Regions from separate parts of the Homo sapiens genome. Here region 2 is linked to region 1. Evidence: fine-mapped expression QTL. Tissue or cell type: ileum. Region 1 holds a variant in brackets; the other region holds the start of a gene. All regions are shown on one strand. Distances are between the middles of the regions.

Region 1 (8,110 bases):
ACATAGATAAAAGATTTGTCAATTGTGCCTTTGACTATGGCTGCCCTAAAACCTTTTGTCATCCACAGACAATTTTTGTCTCATTTAAATCCTCCTTAGCAGGTGATTTTATAATCAACTACAGAACTTAAACAGGTGTTCTTGAATGCAGGTTTATGACAACTTTGGAGATTGTAACATTAGAATAAAGGAAAAAACTTTTAGCACTCTCATGGAGAGCTGAAATGTTCATGAATATCAAGGAGAACAGGAGTTAACTTTGTGAACTGAACTAATTGAAGACTAAAGCAATCTTCTTAGCTTTGTTTTTCAGAGTCAAGAAAACTTTTAAGCTATTTGCAGATTTTATCAATTGAGTAAAGTATACTCATATGAACAAAATTTGGAGCATATTTGTTTCTCTCTACCTGATTTCTCTAGAATTTGGAAACTATTTGTGAGAATTCTTAATTTATGACAATACAATTATTATCACAAGTGCAATAAGAATCTGTTTTCATTTGTAACAGGACACAAATTGGAGAAACTGGTTATTTTCCCAAGGCTTTGACTGGAATGGTGTACTTTCCTTTAAGGAATCAAACTTGACTTATGGAGCCAAAAAAAGCCCCTTGGAAAAACTGTCCTCATATCTTTTTCTGCACAGCCCCTGTTCAGGGTTCCTGATCTGTGATGAGTAAAGAATATCACTTTCTGACAGTCCCAGGAGCCCCAAGTATATCTTGGAACCTCAAGTGAGGAGGATCACCCAACTCATAGGTATTTGATGACACAAATCCATGGCTGAGCTCAGCTTTAAAAAAAGTCTTATCTGAAGTTCCTTCTATGGAACAAAGTTCCATCAAAGCCAATTTAAAAGCCTATATAAAAATAATTATTCTTGCCATACTGTATACAAATAATTAGGCCAAGTATAATAAAGCAAACCAGTCTTACCATGATTTTTGTCTTTAGCAAATATGAGAAAGTGGAGACAGAAAAATTATGTTTTAAAAACTATAGTATACCTGTTGTTAGATTCTAGTCTTGCCTAATATTTTTCCATTGTTATTATTTTCTACATTTTGGACTGAATTCTAATTTTTCTTTGCTACAAGTTTTCAAAATAATGTTCAATTTTTTTCCTTCTTTTTAAAATTTTTATTTATTTAATTAATTATTTATTTTGAGATGGAGTCTCACTCTGTCACCCAGGCTGGAGTGCAGTGGCACGATCTCAGCTCACTGCAAGCTCCACCTTCCGGGTTCATGCCATTCTCCTGCCTCAGCCTCCTGAGTAGCTGGGACTGCAGGTGCCTGCCACCAAGCCTGGTTAATTTTTTTTTATATTTTTAGTAGAGACGGGGTTTCACCGTGTTAGCCAGGATGGTCTTGATCTCCTGACGTCGTGATCTGCCCGTCTCGGCCTCCCAAAGTGCTGGGATTAGAGGCGTGACCCACCGCACCCGGCCTCCTTCTTTTTTCTTGTATTTTTCCTAATTTGGAGTCACAGAAAACTAAGCTGTGACTTTGTAAAGCCCTGCAAACTGAAGCTAGATAACTTAATCTTCAGAAGAAAATAATAGCAACCTATTTATATAAATAAGCCACTTTCATACCTTCCTACTGATATATGGACTTCAGAGTAATGTGGCCTATAGTGATTTTCCAGGATTGTTCTTTTGCTTGTTGTTGTTGTTTTTTTTCCCTTTCTCCACATATTTTCTCTTCATAGGACAAGAGACTTCACAACCTTCTAAAAATGAGCCTTCCTAATAATGTAGGACTTACCTGTCTAGGAATAAACCATCTTAGCCATGAGAGATGAGACAAAACCTGGGACCAGAGAGTCATTTTCTTCTAAAATAATTTATCCAAAAGATTTTTAAAAAGAAAAGGGAGGAAATGTGAAAGGAAAACATCTTGGGCCCCCAAAATCACTAATCTAAAGGAAAAAGTCAAGCTGGGAACTCCTGAGGGCCAACCTGTTTCTCATTCTATTCAAAGTCAACCCTCTGCTCAATGAGATAAATGCATATCTATTTGCTTCCTTTGGAGAGGTTAATCAGAAACTCAGAAGAATGCAACCATTTGTCTCTTATCTACCTATGACCTGCAAGCCCCCTCCCACTTTGTGTTGTCTCACCTTTGCTTCAAGTTGTCCCGCCTTTCCAGACCGAACCTATGTTCATCTTACATATGTTGATTATTGATGTCTCATGTCTCCCTAAAATGTATAAAACCGAACTATGCTCTGACTACCTTGGGCACATGTTGTCATGGCCTACTGAGGCTGTGTCATCGGCATGTGTCCTCAACCTTGGCAAAATAAACATTCTAAATTAACTGAGACATGTCTCAAAGTTTCAGGGTCAAAATGGCTGCTAAGAAAGAATTTGAGGGACTAGTGGGGATCAAAGAGGTACTAATACTTATTAAATATCTACTATAACAACATTATCATCAAACAACCATTTTTTCAGCATGTCCTATATACTAGAAACTCTTTATTTTATTGCATTTGATCATTACAATATTATATATTATACATACAATAAATAAGCCAATTCCAAATTGGCATAATTACCCCATTCCACAGATGAGGAAACTGAGGCTCAGAGAGTTGAAGGGTCTTACTATGGATCACATAGCTAGCAAGAGAGAGAACTAAAACTTGAACCTAGTCTCTGAGCCTCAACTCGTCATCCCTTACAGTGTACCACATCCTGAGTTAGATGTGACAGTATATCACTTTATAGGCCACTGTTTAGGTTATTGTATGTTGTATTGCCACTCCCTTTTGGAAATGTCATATAAGTAAGGAAAGTTTCTGTGAAAAGTGGTTCTGATCTACGCAATTTACTGAAGCTTTCCCACTGGCTCTCCACACCAAGCCACCAATATGCCTGCCAATGCTTTCTTAATCTTTCCTAAAGAGCCACCTCAAAAATCTTTCTACCTTGGAGAAAGTTTCTAAAAGATTAAAGAAGAAAAGCATAAAATGTTGGGAACTACAGAAGACAGCAGGTTCCTTGTCTTCTTTCTCTGTAACAGGGACGGGCCAACTTGGGGCTGGCAGAACAGAGACATGCCAAAGTTATAAAAAAAAAAAAATAAGGAGAAAAGTTGATTCCTAAATGTTCTACTAGGGCTTGGCCATCAGAAAACTAAAAGAGAAGCAAGTTCAGCTGAACATACTGCTTTCTGCATAGAAAATACTCAGCTTATTTCTTTAGTTTATTGAGGATTTTTTGCCAAATATTGTGTAGTTATTGTGTTCAGTGGTTTTATCCTAATCCAAGTAAAATAAAATAAATAAAAGAGAAATGTTGTCAGTTTTTGGTATTTCCAGATAAAAGTAATTCCTTTCCTGCTAACTTCTTTCCCTTGCCCACTTCTGTTCCACCCAAAGGGACACCAGGAGGTACTATTTGATATAGTATTTGGGCCACAGAACTTGCCATAACTGACTGGGCCAGGAGTGGGCACCTGGCTGCTGCATTTAGGTGTAGTGGTGTAGTCACTGATGAATTTGGAGTTGTGACTAAGAAAGTTAAGTATCTATCTGAGTGAGTCATTTGAATGGCAGAAATGCAAAAATTTAGAGCTGTAATTCAAGAGCCTATCTGCACAAATGGCCAATAAGCACATAAAAAATGTTCAATATTATGAGTCATTAGGGAAATGCAAACCAAAACCACAATGAAATATCATTTTACATTTACTAGAATGGCTATAATTCTTTTAAAGGGGATAAATAACAGTTATTGACAAGGATGTGGAGTGAAAAGGGAACGCTTGTGCTTTGCTGGAAGGAAAGAAAGAGTGCAACCACTGTGGAAAACAGTTTGGCAGTTCCTCCAAAAGCTAAACATAGAACTACCATGTAATTCAGCAGCTTCACTCCTAGACATATACCTCAAAGAACTGAAAGTAAGGCCTCAAACATATTTGTATACTCACATTCATAGCAACGTTATTCACAATAGCCAAAGGTGAAAACAACACAAATGTCCATCAACAGATGAATGGAAAAACAAAATATGGTGTATATATACAGTAGAATATTATTCAGCCACAAAAAAGCTAAATTTTGATATATGCTACAATATTAATGGACCTTGATGACGTTATGCTAAGTGTAATAAGTCAGATACAAAATGATATATACATATTGTATGAATCCACTTTTGTGACATGCCCAAAGTAGAGAAATTCATGGAGACCATAGAATAGAGGTTACCAGGATCTGGGAGGGAGGGGAGTATGAGGAGTTGTTTAATGGGTACAGAGTTCATGCTGGAGATGATGAAAAAGTTTTAGGTGTACGTAATAGTGACGGAAACAGCTGCCCATCTAGAGCCGCCGCTATCAAGACACAGGATACCGCGGAGAGGCTCTGGCCAGAGCTATAACGCTCCACGGAGCCGGCAGGAGCCCCGCCCTCCCTGGGTGCCCCTGCAGCCGCCCTGCCACGGCTCTCGGCTCTCGGGATCACGCGTCTCTGTGTTCTTGGGGGCCCAGGAAGACCCCTCTGCCTCCCACAGGCTCGGAAGTGCCTGCTCCCACTGCGTGGCTTCTCTCCGCTGTCAGCGCCCGTTCCCATTTCGGAGGCATCCCGGGGGCTGCAAGCTACAGGGAGCCAGGGGAGCAGGGGACAAGCGGGAGCCCTGCCTCTTGCGTATTGGCAGGGCGAGAGCTCCCAGAGGTGCAGCTGCAACCGCCCTCCCAGGCTCAGGACCTGGGCGGCTCTGCAGTCTGCGCCTCTGAAACAATGAGAATGGTTATATAATATTGTGGATATATTTAATACCGCTGCATTGTACTTACCGTGGTTAGAATAATAAATATTATGTTATATATATTTTACCA[CTG/C]TGTGTGTGTGTGTGTGTGTGTGTGTGTGTGTGTGTGTGTGTGTGTACTTTTTAAGCCTGTCTGTCCAGAGAAAACAAGCATGGAGAAAAAGTGGTCCCAGAGCCCCTGGTAGTTTTCCATTTCCAGGGTCTATCCTTTTTCCTGGGGGTCAATCTATATTCTTGTATTTGAGAATCCATATCTTTATATTTTTAATTTATATTCAAATAAATAAAACACTTTGTTCATGCTCAGAGTAACTCAAGTTGATCATTGCTACTTGAACCCAATCTTAACTAACCAACTTTGGTAAATTTTTAGCAACAAGTTACTTTTTTGGCAACTGTCATCTTCTCTTAATAAAGCTAGAGTCCAGAGGCTGGCCAAGTGCAGCACAAAGCAACGTTCACACTTCACTTACCTTGTGTTGCCTAGAGGAGCAAAGTTTGAATCATCTTCTAGGCTTAGCTTTAGGTAGGATTGTGGACATTAGAATGATCCCACAATAGCAGAAATATTTCTATGAAATACTCTATCTCTGGGTTCAATATTTGGTGTGAGCACCCCTTGTGTGAAGTCATCCAGCCAACAAAAATCCAGCCAGAGGCATTGAGGTGAGGACTTGAAAGTTGTGCAAGAGTTTCTAGAGCTAATGTTATCTCTAGGATCAATCAGAATTGATTAGTAAAAGGGGTATAAAGTATGTTGGCTGACTCCCTGGGTCTTTTTATTAGAAATTGGGAGGATTCTGGTACAAAATTACATGATGGATCATAGTCAACAAGAGAATGTTGTTGTCCAGAGTCTGATATTGCTAAAATGCAATTATTCATAATTTAATTTGCTAATGTTTATTAAGCCTTAGCCTTCTGTCACTAGTTATATCTCAGAAGTTGAGTACTATCTTGGAAGCCATGCTGAGTTCACTTCCTGAATTGGCCACTTATTCATTAGATGGCCTTGGAGGAGGGATGTAAATGCTCTCTAGTGTGGTTTTCTCTTCTGTAATGACAATGCCTGCTTACCTCTTGGGATAGTTGTGAGTACTAAAGGTGTTAAAATGTGTGAAACACTTGGAATGCTGCCTGGAATCTAAGTGCTATCTAAAATGTAAGGTCTTATCATTGTGTGAACATTTCTCACTCACTTTATTGCATCTCTGTGATTACTTCGATACTATCTTGAGTCAGCACTTTCTACTTTAAGTTATACAGCCAAGGTGTGTCATGGCTGCTGGAAGGTTTGATCATAAGGACCAAGTCCTAAAATGTAAATTAGGATAGGAAAAGTGGAGTCTGGAGAGAAGCCAAGTCCTTAAGTTCCTGGCTCACTGTAAAGGCAGAGTGCCTGGGAGCTTCTCTCTTTTCAGAGAATGACAGGGATTTTCAGACTGTGGTCCCCTGTTGTGGGTTGACTGTATCATCTCTACCAGCCTTGGTAGGCACCTATCTTCAAGCAAAAAGGATATTTTGAAGATGAAGATGTTGATTCTATTTTGCCTAAATTTAACTAAACCTTTTATCTATGGTGTCTTCGCCCCCAAATCCCTTCTATGAATGTGCTCTGATTACTTTTTCTTTTTTCTTTTTTTTGAGACGAGGTCTTGCTCTGTTGCCAGGCTGGACTACAGTGGCACAGTCTTGGCTCACTGCAACCTCCGACTCCCTGGTTCAAGCGACTCCCCTGCCTCAGCCTCCTGAGTAGCTGAGACTACAGGCACCTGCCACCACACCTGGCTAATTTTTGTATTTTTAGTAGAGACTGGGTTTTACCCTGTTGGCCAGGTTGGTCTCCATCTCGGGACCTCGCGATCTGCCAGCCTTGGCCTCCCAATGTGCTGGGATTACAGGTGTGAGCCACCGTGCTCGGCCAACTACCAATTTTTTTAAATGATCTTTACCCTTAAGTCATAGCTGATAGGATTTGAGATAGATAAGGTGTCAAGCTAGAGTAAGTTCAGTTTTCCATCAACATGGACCTGGAATATAGAAATCATGACCAGACTTGGACTGAGAACACTTAAATTCTGAAAGTATGAGGTAACTTTGCTCAGGAAAAAACATACACTTGTACACATAAGGGGTGGCCGAATAATGCCTCTCCAAAAATATTAAGGTCCTAATCCCTAGAAGCTTTGAGTGTTATATGGCAAAAGAGATTTCACAAGTGTGATTAAATTAACAATCTTGAGATGGGGAGATTATCCTGGATTATCCAGGTTGGTCCTATGTATATGCAAGTGTCCTTCTAAGAGGGAGGCAGAGGGAGATTTGAGTGTAGAAGAGAAGAAAGTGATGCGATGATGATCAAAGTAGAGAGATAAAAGATGATGTGATACAGAGACACAAGCTAAGGAGTGAGGACAGCCTGTATGATCTGGAAAAGGCAAGGGAGTTGATTTACCCGTATAACCTCCAGAAGGAACTGTACCTGCCAACATGTTGGGTTTAGCCTCATAAATCCTATTCTGAACTTCTGATTGCCATAAATATAAGATAACAAATTGTGTTGCTTTAAGTCATAATATTTATCATAATTTGTTATAATGGCAAAACTAATACATCATAGACATAAAAATTATCTTGAAAATTTAAAGTTAAGCTTTAAATTTGCAACTCAACCTAGCAACCCCTTGTGATAAAAAGCAAGTAAGAAAACCAAATTTTCACTCATGGCCACAAAATTTAATTTAGCGGAGCATCTCAAAGCTCCTCAGAGGGTACTCCGAATAAAAAGCAATGATGCTGAGGGCTTTTTAAAAGTCCTTGGGATAACTTTTTAGAAGGAAGGGAAGAATACCAGAGGAGACACTTTTAAAAGCAGACTTTTTATTTTAACAAGAAAGTCATAAAAGTGAATTTTTTCATGAAAGAAATAGTCTTCATTTAAGAAAGTGTTGCCGTTAAAGGGTTATCTTGGCACTAATGATTGGCTTTGGGTGATTTTAATTCTGAGATGTCTGTCATAAAGGAAATTATGAGACCATAAAATTGAGCTTCTAATTTTCTGTAAGAATACAGAGGAGAAGGAAGGTAAAACTGTTAAGGGTGAGCTTAAGTAATACACAGATCCTAGATAATCAGTTGCATTTTGTGCTAATGTAGATCACAATGCTTGTGTTTGAATTAATGTTTTTTTACTGATAAGAAAGATTTGAAATGGACAGTGGAATCAATCAACAATATTTCTTGGGGGTGCATTTCCACTGATGCCAGCCACAAGGACAAATCTTAAACCCCAAATTGTTCAGTGCCTGTAGGCTTTTCTCATTATTATC
Region 2 (8,110 bases), 390 kb before region 1:
CAGCAATTGTTTAACATTGCAATTGCCTGAAAATGTAAATATCAGTTGGAGCATACAATAATCTAACCAAACTCTTAAAAAAAATTGATGACGGCTTTAGAAATCCATAGAGGGCTTTGAAAAGCTCCCATACATTCCTGGGGATTACAAAAATCATGCATATGGGCAAGGCCTTATGTATGCACAGGAAAGACCTGAGAGGACCTAATGTTTCATTTGTGGCTGAACTTGAGGCTCTGCACAGAGGACGTGAAGATTAAAGGCAGAATTTAAACTGCTGGAGCGCTGAAAACGTGCTCCAACACACACATGCAAAGCCCATGCATAAGGCTTCAGAGAATTAGCAATTTAAAGCACTTAAAAAACTTTACCCAATTGTTAGTTGACCACTAACCTAACTGAGTAGAAATTTCAGTGGCCACACACAACAAGAAATGCAGAATTAACATAAGTAACTCAGGAAAATCACTAAACAAACAAAAGTACCACCAACAAAAACAAAGCCTAGATGGGAGGAGAGATCTGATTTTTAGAATATGCTATTTTTTATTATTTAAAATGTCCAGATTTTAACAACAAAAAAAGTGTCACTTAAAGAATGAAGAAAGTATGGCCAATTCATATGTTTAAGAAAACAGTCAATAGAAACTGTCCATGAGGAAGCCCAAATATTGGGCTTGGTAGACAAAGATTAATATGAGGTGGAAAAAATTATCTTATTGTGAATTCTTTATAATTAAAATATGAATCCTATAGAGGCCTTTGCCTTCCCTACAGTCTTTTTAAAGGCACTCTTAACCTCTTTGTTCCTCAGGCTGTAGACCAGTGGATTCAACATGGGAATGACTATGGCATAGAACACAGATGCCATTTTGTCTGTGCCCATGAAATGGCTGGAGTTAGGTCGTAAGTACATAAAGATTCCTGTCCCATAAAAGATGGAAACTGCAGTAAGGTGGGAAGCACAAGTAGAAAAGGCCTTCTGGCGTCCTTCAGGTGAGCGCATCTTCATGATGGTGATAAATATAAATAAGTAGGAGATCAAGATTACCAGGATAGAAAAGAGGTCATTGAATCCCACCACAAAAAAAATAACCATCTCACTGATGTAGTTGTCTGAACATGAGAGAGTCAAGAGAGGAGGAGCATCACAGAAAAAGTGTTCAACTACATTGGATCTACAGAAGGAGAGCCTGAAAGTGTTCCCAGTATGAATGGATGCATTCAGGAAACCACAGATGTAGGAGCCTATGGCCAGGCAAGCACATACATTTGTTGTCATGGTGGTGGTGTAATGCAGGGGTTTACACAATGCTGCATAGCGGTCATAGGCCATTGATGCCAGGAGGAAACTTTCTGCAGTGATAAAGGCTACAAAGAAGAAGAATTGTGTGGCACAAGCATTATATAATATGAATTTGTCTCCTGTGAGAAACCCCACCATCACCTTGGGAGTGACAGCTGAGGAATAACCAAAGTCCACCAGGGAGAGGTTACTGAGGAAGAAGTACATGGGGGTGTGGAGACAGGAGTCCAGTAGAATCAATTCAATCATCCCCAGGTTCCCAACCAGAGTGATGAGGTAGATGAAAAGGAAGACTATGAAGAGTGGGATCTGCAGTTCTGGGTCATCAGTTAACCCCACAAGGATGAATTCAGTCACCTCTGTGTTGTTCTCCATTGGGAATTATGTAGCTGCCCTGTAGAAATGAAAAGGCAGAATCAGAATGATAAATGGAGGGAGGACTACTGAGATCAATCAGCATGCCATTTTTTTGCTTTATTCCAGTATTGTAATTACTTGTTTCCAGGAGTCCCGGATCTAAAACATGCCCATGACCGCAAAATGCAACTTTAAATTACAATAATTCATAGAGCATTCTTAATAAAATGATTTTGGAGATAATTCATCCCGAACTCCTAATTTCATAGATTACCGAACTAAGGTACAGAAAAGGAAGATTCATACAAGATCATCAGACTAATTAATTGGAACAGGTGAAATATAAAACCAAGTCACTTTGAATTAAAGCCTTAACTCTTTATCACAAAGAAAAATTCCTTTAAATCTTTTACATTCAGTCTAAACTGGGCACAAGACAGTAATTTATTTAATTGACTGACTGCCTGATGGAGTAATTAAATCTATCATTGTAAGTCAATGTGAAGAATGGAATAGCATGAAATTAGGAATCAAATATACTTACCAGTTTTCTTGGCTTCATGCAAATAACCTACATTTCTGGATCTCAGTTAAATGATAATAACTGGATCCACAAATGTTTATAACTACTTCCAACCCTTAAAAAAATCTTCAAAAAGTTAAAAAGGAACATGACTCTTCAGTAATACCAACCAATTGACCAATCAACATAAATCTCTGGATGTGTTCATTTCTTTATTCTCTCTACAAGCTCTAATTTCGAATGGAGCACCATGTTTCATGCTAATTGCCAGGTTTACATTAATGCAAGAGATACATTTCCTGACCAGATAGATATCTAAACTGATAAATATTATGTTTAAGTTCAGAATATTCTTATTCTCCATTCCCAAGGAGACAGAAGTGTTTTCTTATTTGCTCAGAACTGTGTGATAGATGTTAATCACATCTACACTGTAGACCATCAGTCGGTCCACAATATAGTTTATAAATTGTGTGTCCAATGACCAGATGTTTTTAGTGACAGAATTAGCACATGAGATTAGGTCTCCTCATTCCAATAGTTAGTTGTGCCTTATGTAATTTTGCACATCTCTATTTCAGTGCATTTTATAACTGGCTTGTAAGCCTGATTTCTTCCTCATTTATTAATCACCATTCCTTCTGTCTCTCTTTTTAAAAAAATATTAGTATGGGCTTCCAGATTATGGTAAAATTTTATGTTGATATTCCATTTGACTATCTCAACAATTGTAGAATTAGGAGAACTAATATTATCATATTTCCTGAAAAAGAAAACTGAGAAATAAATAGTTTAACTTGCTCAAAGTAATGCAATCTTATTCTTTGTAAAGCAGGGACTCGAGGCCTTCTTGTGCTTTTTCTTTATGTCACATGATAAGTAAACACATTCTACACAAGTTGGGAATCCCTAATCCAAAAATCCAAAGTCTAAAATGCTTCCAAATCCAAAACTATTTGAGAACCAACATGATGCTACAAATGGAAAATTCCACACATAAGTATGTAGCACATACTTTGTTTCATGTGCAAAAATTATTTAAAATATTATGTAAAATTACTTAGGCTATGGATATAACGTGTATATAAAACATAAATGAATTTTGTGTTTAAATTTGGGTTTCATCCCCAATATATCTCATAAACATGCAAATATTCAAAAATTCTAAAAAATCCAAAATCCAAAACACTTCTGTTCCCAAATATTTTAGATGAGGAATACTCAACATATATAGCCTCTGGATGTGTGAAACAGATAAAAGAAATAGTCAAAATATTAGAGCCAAATCCCTGATTAAACCAAAGGAGAAAGGGGTACCTCGATGCATTTTTCTAGTTACCTCTGCCCCTGTAACTTTGTGCAGACAATAGATTTGATCCAGAGACTTACCTTTCTCCCTGAGAAATACAAAATTCAGGTCCAGCACTTTCATATATAAGTGAATGTCACATCAGAAATTAAGTCCTTTAAAGAAGGAAAACAACTTTTTGGAGACTGTTCTTTAGCGTTTGGCCAAAAGGCTTAAAGTTCTTTAGAGGCAGGGGGAAATTGAAAGAAAAATGCTATTGGCTTTGGAATCAGCTAGCAAGAGCTCTACTCCTGTATTTACTGCCCCTTCTTTGTAGATAAGTCTCTTAACCCATTTGAATATCAATAGCTGAATCTATAAAAAAGAAAATATTAAAAGATAGCCCTAACAACATCCAGCCTGAAAACTGCTGCTATGGTAAGAAAAGAATAGGAAACCTACAATTTCTTATACTTGGTAAGAGGTGATAATCATAACCTCAATTAATATAATAATTACTGGTTTTTTTCCTAAACATTGTTGTAGGCTCTTTGCTATGTATCAGTTTTGGAGAAGGCCATAGTTACTACTAGATGACTATTGACAATCAGACGAATAAATAAATGGTCAAAGTGACTCTGGTTCTGGGGCTGCTCCCTCTAATATGAAGCCAAATGGAATCATATAGGTACTTGATCAGTTGAAAAGTGGGAACCAGGAGGTAATTGTATGGTCATGGAGCTCTCAGGCGACACATACTCTATGAGGTCTACAAAACACTTTATCTCACATAACTGGAAATCAGGTGATTAAAGTATCTATGGGGATTCAGCTCTGCTTGTTGTGGGAGATCATGAGTGTATTTATGTTACTTTCAGTTATTCTCTTGGGTAATGCACAAATTAAGCCACAGCATGTCCTTCAAGACTGTTATTTGACATAAATACTAAGAGACAGAGACATACATTTTATCATTAAATAAGGGATGTGGACTTCAGGGATTAGTACTTCTTTTAATTCACCTTAAATGTTTGAACCATTGAGAAGAAATATTAATTCATCAACTGTTTATTGATTGCAAATGGATTTTAGCCATAGTAATGAGAGCTGAGAACATAGACCCATTCAAAATAAACATCATTCTTGTGCCCATGGTGTTTAAATCTAATGGAGAAGATAGACAGTAAGCAAATAAACCCCGTAAGAAACATGCGTAAATATGCATATTTACACATATAAATACATATGTACATATATATAATTATGTGTGGAATAAGCATGTAACTATACATAAAAATGAGATAAAAAATAAGTCTACTTTATATTGTTTGGTCAGAATGTTTTCTCTGGAAAATTAAGATTTCAGCCAAGTTTGGCCAGGCGCGGTGGCTCAAGCCTGTTATCCCAGCACTTTGGGAGGCCGAGGCAGGCGGATCACGAGGTCAGGAGATCAAGACCATCCTGGCTAACACGGTGAAACCCCGTCTATACTAAAAAATACAAAAAAATAGCCGGGCGTGGTAGCGGGCGCCTGTAGTCCCAGCTACTCGGGAGGCTGAGGCAGGAGAATGGCGTGAACCCGGGAGACGGAGCTTGCAGCGATCCGAGATCGCACCACTGCACTCCAGCCTGGGGGACAGGGGGATAGAGCGAGACTCCGTCTCAAAAAAAAAAAAAAGATTTCAGCCAAGTTTAAAAATGACAAAGAACTAGTATGGAAAAGATCATTCCAAACAAAATGAAATGTATGTAGTAAAGGACCCAAGTTTCAAAACAGTTAACAAAATCTAAAAGAAGCCAGTATGTTTTCTTCATAACTAGACCTCTTCCTTGTCAATTTCTATTTCAGCATCCTCCACCAAAGAAACCTTGACAAACAAAACAAACAGAGTGACACATAAACAAGATGGCAGAATAGGAGATACAATCCTCTTCCCCTCACACAAAAAATCAACCGATAATTATCCATGAATGATAATAGCCTTAGTAGGACTCAAGGGACCATTTAAAAACCTGTAGCAACATAGTGAAATAAAAAATGTGGGAGGGGAATAACCACATAGAAAAGACTGTTGGAGATATGTATTAACCGACATGTCTAGAGATGTCTAGGAACAAAGAAAAGCAAGTTCTAGCATTATCAACCATGTTATGAATGCCACCATTGTTCCCAGCAACCTGCTCTACAGAGAACACTGCCATCTTTCACTACCAAGATAATCAACAGCCATCCCCACCGTGGAGCCCCCAGAAAAGGAAACACTGCTGGACCAATGCTCCCAGAAGGGGCAACTGCTTTGTTGCCCCATGGCCAAAGCCACCATTCCTTCCAATTTTGCACATGCCTCAAACACTGGAGCCACTACTGTTATAGGTTAGCCACACCCCACACCTTAGAGCCCCAGTTGCTGTGTGTGCATACTCACTTCATGCACCAACTCCACTACAATATTGAGCAGCTTGAGGCCCAGAGCCCAGAGTCACGGTAGCTCTGAGCAAACCTACACTCTGGACCCTAGAGCCACTGTATCTCTGCACATGCCTGGACTTTGGCCCCCAGCTTCTCAGCTGCTTTACAAGCATCTGTGCCCCACACACAGTTATCAATGCAGCAGTGGGGCATCTACACCCAAGGCATTCATGTCATCGACACTTCAGACTCCAGAGTGATTATGCCTCTGTGCATGTCCATGCTTCAGATCTTGACTCCAGGACTGTTGCACAAGCACCATGCATCTGATATCAGTGTCACCACAACTACAGGTGTACCCACTGGACACTGTGCCAAAAGTGATCTCCTCAGCCATGATTTCCCTGTGGAATAAAAAGAGATTGAGAAAACCTCAGTGGCCTTCACCACTGAAGACCCCATTAGCTCTTACTGCTGCTATTGATACCCACAGTCTTGGCTTCTAAAATCCCTGCAATCTTCACCAATGCCAACCTAAGTTGACAGAGCAGCACAAAGACTATGCCACTGCACCCTTGCCAGAGCCCAAACCGCCAAATCTCTCCCAGTCAGTGCCATAGCACTCTCCCTTAAGGGAAAGCCTTTTCCCAGTGAAACCAGCACATAAAGTCAGGAAGAGGTGACTGTTCTACCAAATGTGCAGACATCAATGAAGGATAACAGGATATATGAAAAAACAAGGAAATATGTTACCACCAAAAGAATAATATCAGCCAGGCATAGTGGCTCTTGCCTGTAATCCCAGCCCTTTGGGAGGCCAAGGCAGGAGAAATGTTTGAGTTCAGGAGGTGAAGACCAGCCTGGGCAACAGAGCAAGACCCTGTCTCTACTAAAGATAAAGAAATTAGGTGGGCATAGTGGCATATATCTGTAGTCCCAGATACCAGGGAGCCTAAGGCAGGAAAATCACTTGAGCCCAGGAGTTTGAGACTGCAGTGAGCCATGATTGTGTCACTGCACTCCAGCCTTGGGGACAGAGCAAAACCTTGTCTCAAATAATAGTAGTAATAATAATTTCCAGTAACAAGCCCCAAAGAAATGGAGATCTACAAACTGCCTGACAAAGAATTCAAAATAGTTGTCTTAAGGAGGCTCAGCAAACTAAAAGAGAACACAGAGAGACAACAAATTGAAACCAGTAAAACAATATATGAGCAAAACAAGAAGTTTAACAAAGAGATTAAGAATTTAAAAACTCCATAAAGCCTGGAGTGGAAGAATACAATGCATAAAATACCAAATGCAGGTCATCAGCAGAATTGATCAAACAGAAGAAAGAATTTGTAAACTTGAAGATAGATTATTTGAAAAAATAAAATCAGAGAAGAAAAAAGTAAAAAGGATAAAAAGAAATGAAGAAAGCCTATGGAGATCATCATGGCAGAGGGGAGGCAGGACTAGATTATAATTCTGGACAGAGCAGTGTGTGGAGGCTCACATTCTGAATTTAAGCTCCAGATCAACTTTAAGAACAAACCATCAATCTCGAGAGTACCCACAGACCCTCTGAAAGAAGTGGACTGCTCCAGCAGGACCTGGGACACACTCCAAACACCGTGACTGCCCCAACTGCAGAAGTGGGAAAGGGAGACCTCCTGTCCCGAACACACACCCCCCACTAGAGAAATTGAAGGTCTGTTTGTGGGAGAAAGTTCTGACCTTACCTGGAGCTGAGTCAATTTAGAGAGCTGAGTGAAATACAGGGGTAAAAGAAGGATCAGAAAAGTCCTAGGAGCTCGCTAGGCCCCCAAACAGCCCATTCCTGCTTGACACCACAGGGATCCTTGGAAGGGTGGCCAGAAGAGCAGGGGGTAAAACTACACAGGGAGAAGGAAATCTTTAGCTGAGCTCTGTAACAATTTGAACAGGGCAAGAAGCCTCCTGGCCAGAACTTTGGGGAGGGCGCAAATCTGGTGTGCAGATTCCACAGGCAGGGGAACAACCAAACACCTTTCTTTCGAAGATGGGAGGCAGGTAGCCTGGGGCGAGTTTTCAAGCCCGTTTCCCCCACCACCTAAAAATAGACTCAGGGCTGCTGGGGTGGGGCATGGTGGGAGTGAGACTGGTCTTTCAGTTTGTGTGGGAGCTGGGTGAGGCCTGTGACTGCCGGCTTTCCCTGACTTCCCTAACAACTTGCATGACTCAGCAAAGGCTGCCATAATCCTC

Which allele goes with the higher level. Positions count from the first base shown, and alleles are read on the strand shown. Sizes are in standard deviations (SD) of each study's normalised expression.
For the expression in ileum of the gene that starts at base 3,766 in region 2, C is the high allele of the variant in region 1 and CTG is the other (large effect, 0.83 SD a copy in CEDAR).

What was found. PIP is the estimated chance that this variant, and not a neighbour inherited with it, causes the effect.
Region 2: OR5B12 starts here. The variant in region 1 is fine-mapped to the expression of OR5B12 in ileum (CEDAR, PIP 0.95).

Annotation. Positions count from the first base shown.
Region 1 is chr11:58,826,421-58,834,530 of GRCh38, forward strand. It overlaps GLYATL2 (glycine-N-acyltransferase like 2), which reads right to left. Exons shown (of 6, transcript NM_145016.4): 6 at 7,645-8,110. The coding sequence ends at 8,009. Among named protein-coding and RNA genes, the nearest start is that of GLYATL2, 14 kb to the right of the region's middle. The variant CTG/C (reference allele first, on the strand shown) is at 4,852.
Region 2 is chr11:58,438,471-58,446,580 of GRCh38, forward strand. It overlaps OR5B12 (olfactory receptor family 5 subfamily B member 12), which reads right to left and starts at 3,766. Exons shown (of 2, transcript NM_001004733.3): 1 at 3,576-3,766; 2 at 524-1,700. The coding sequence starts at 1,681. The coding sequence ends at 737.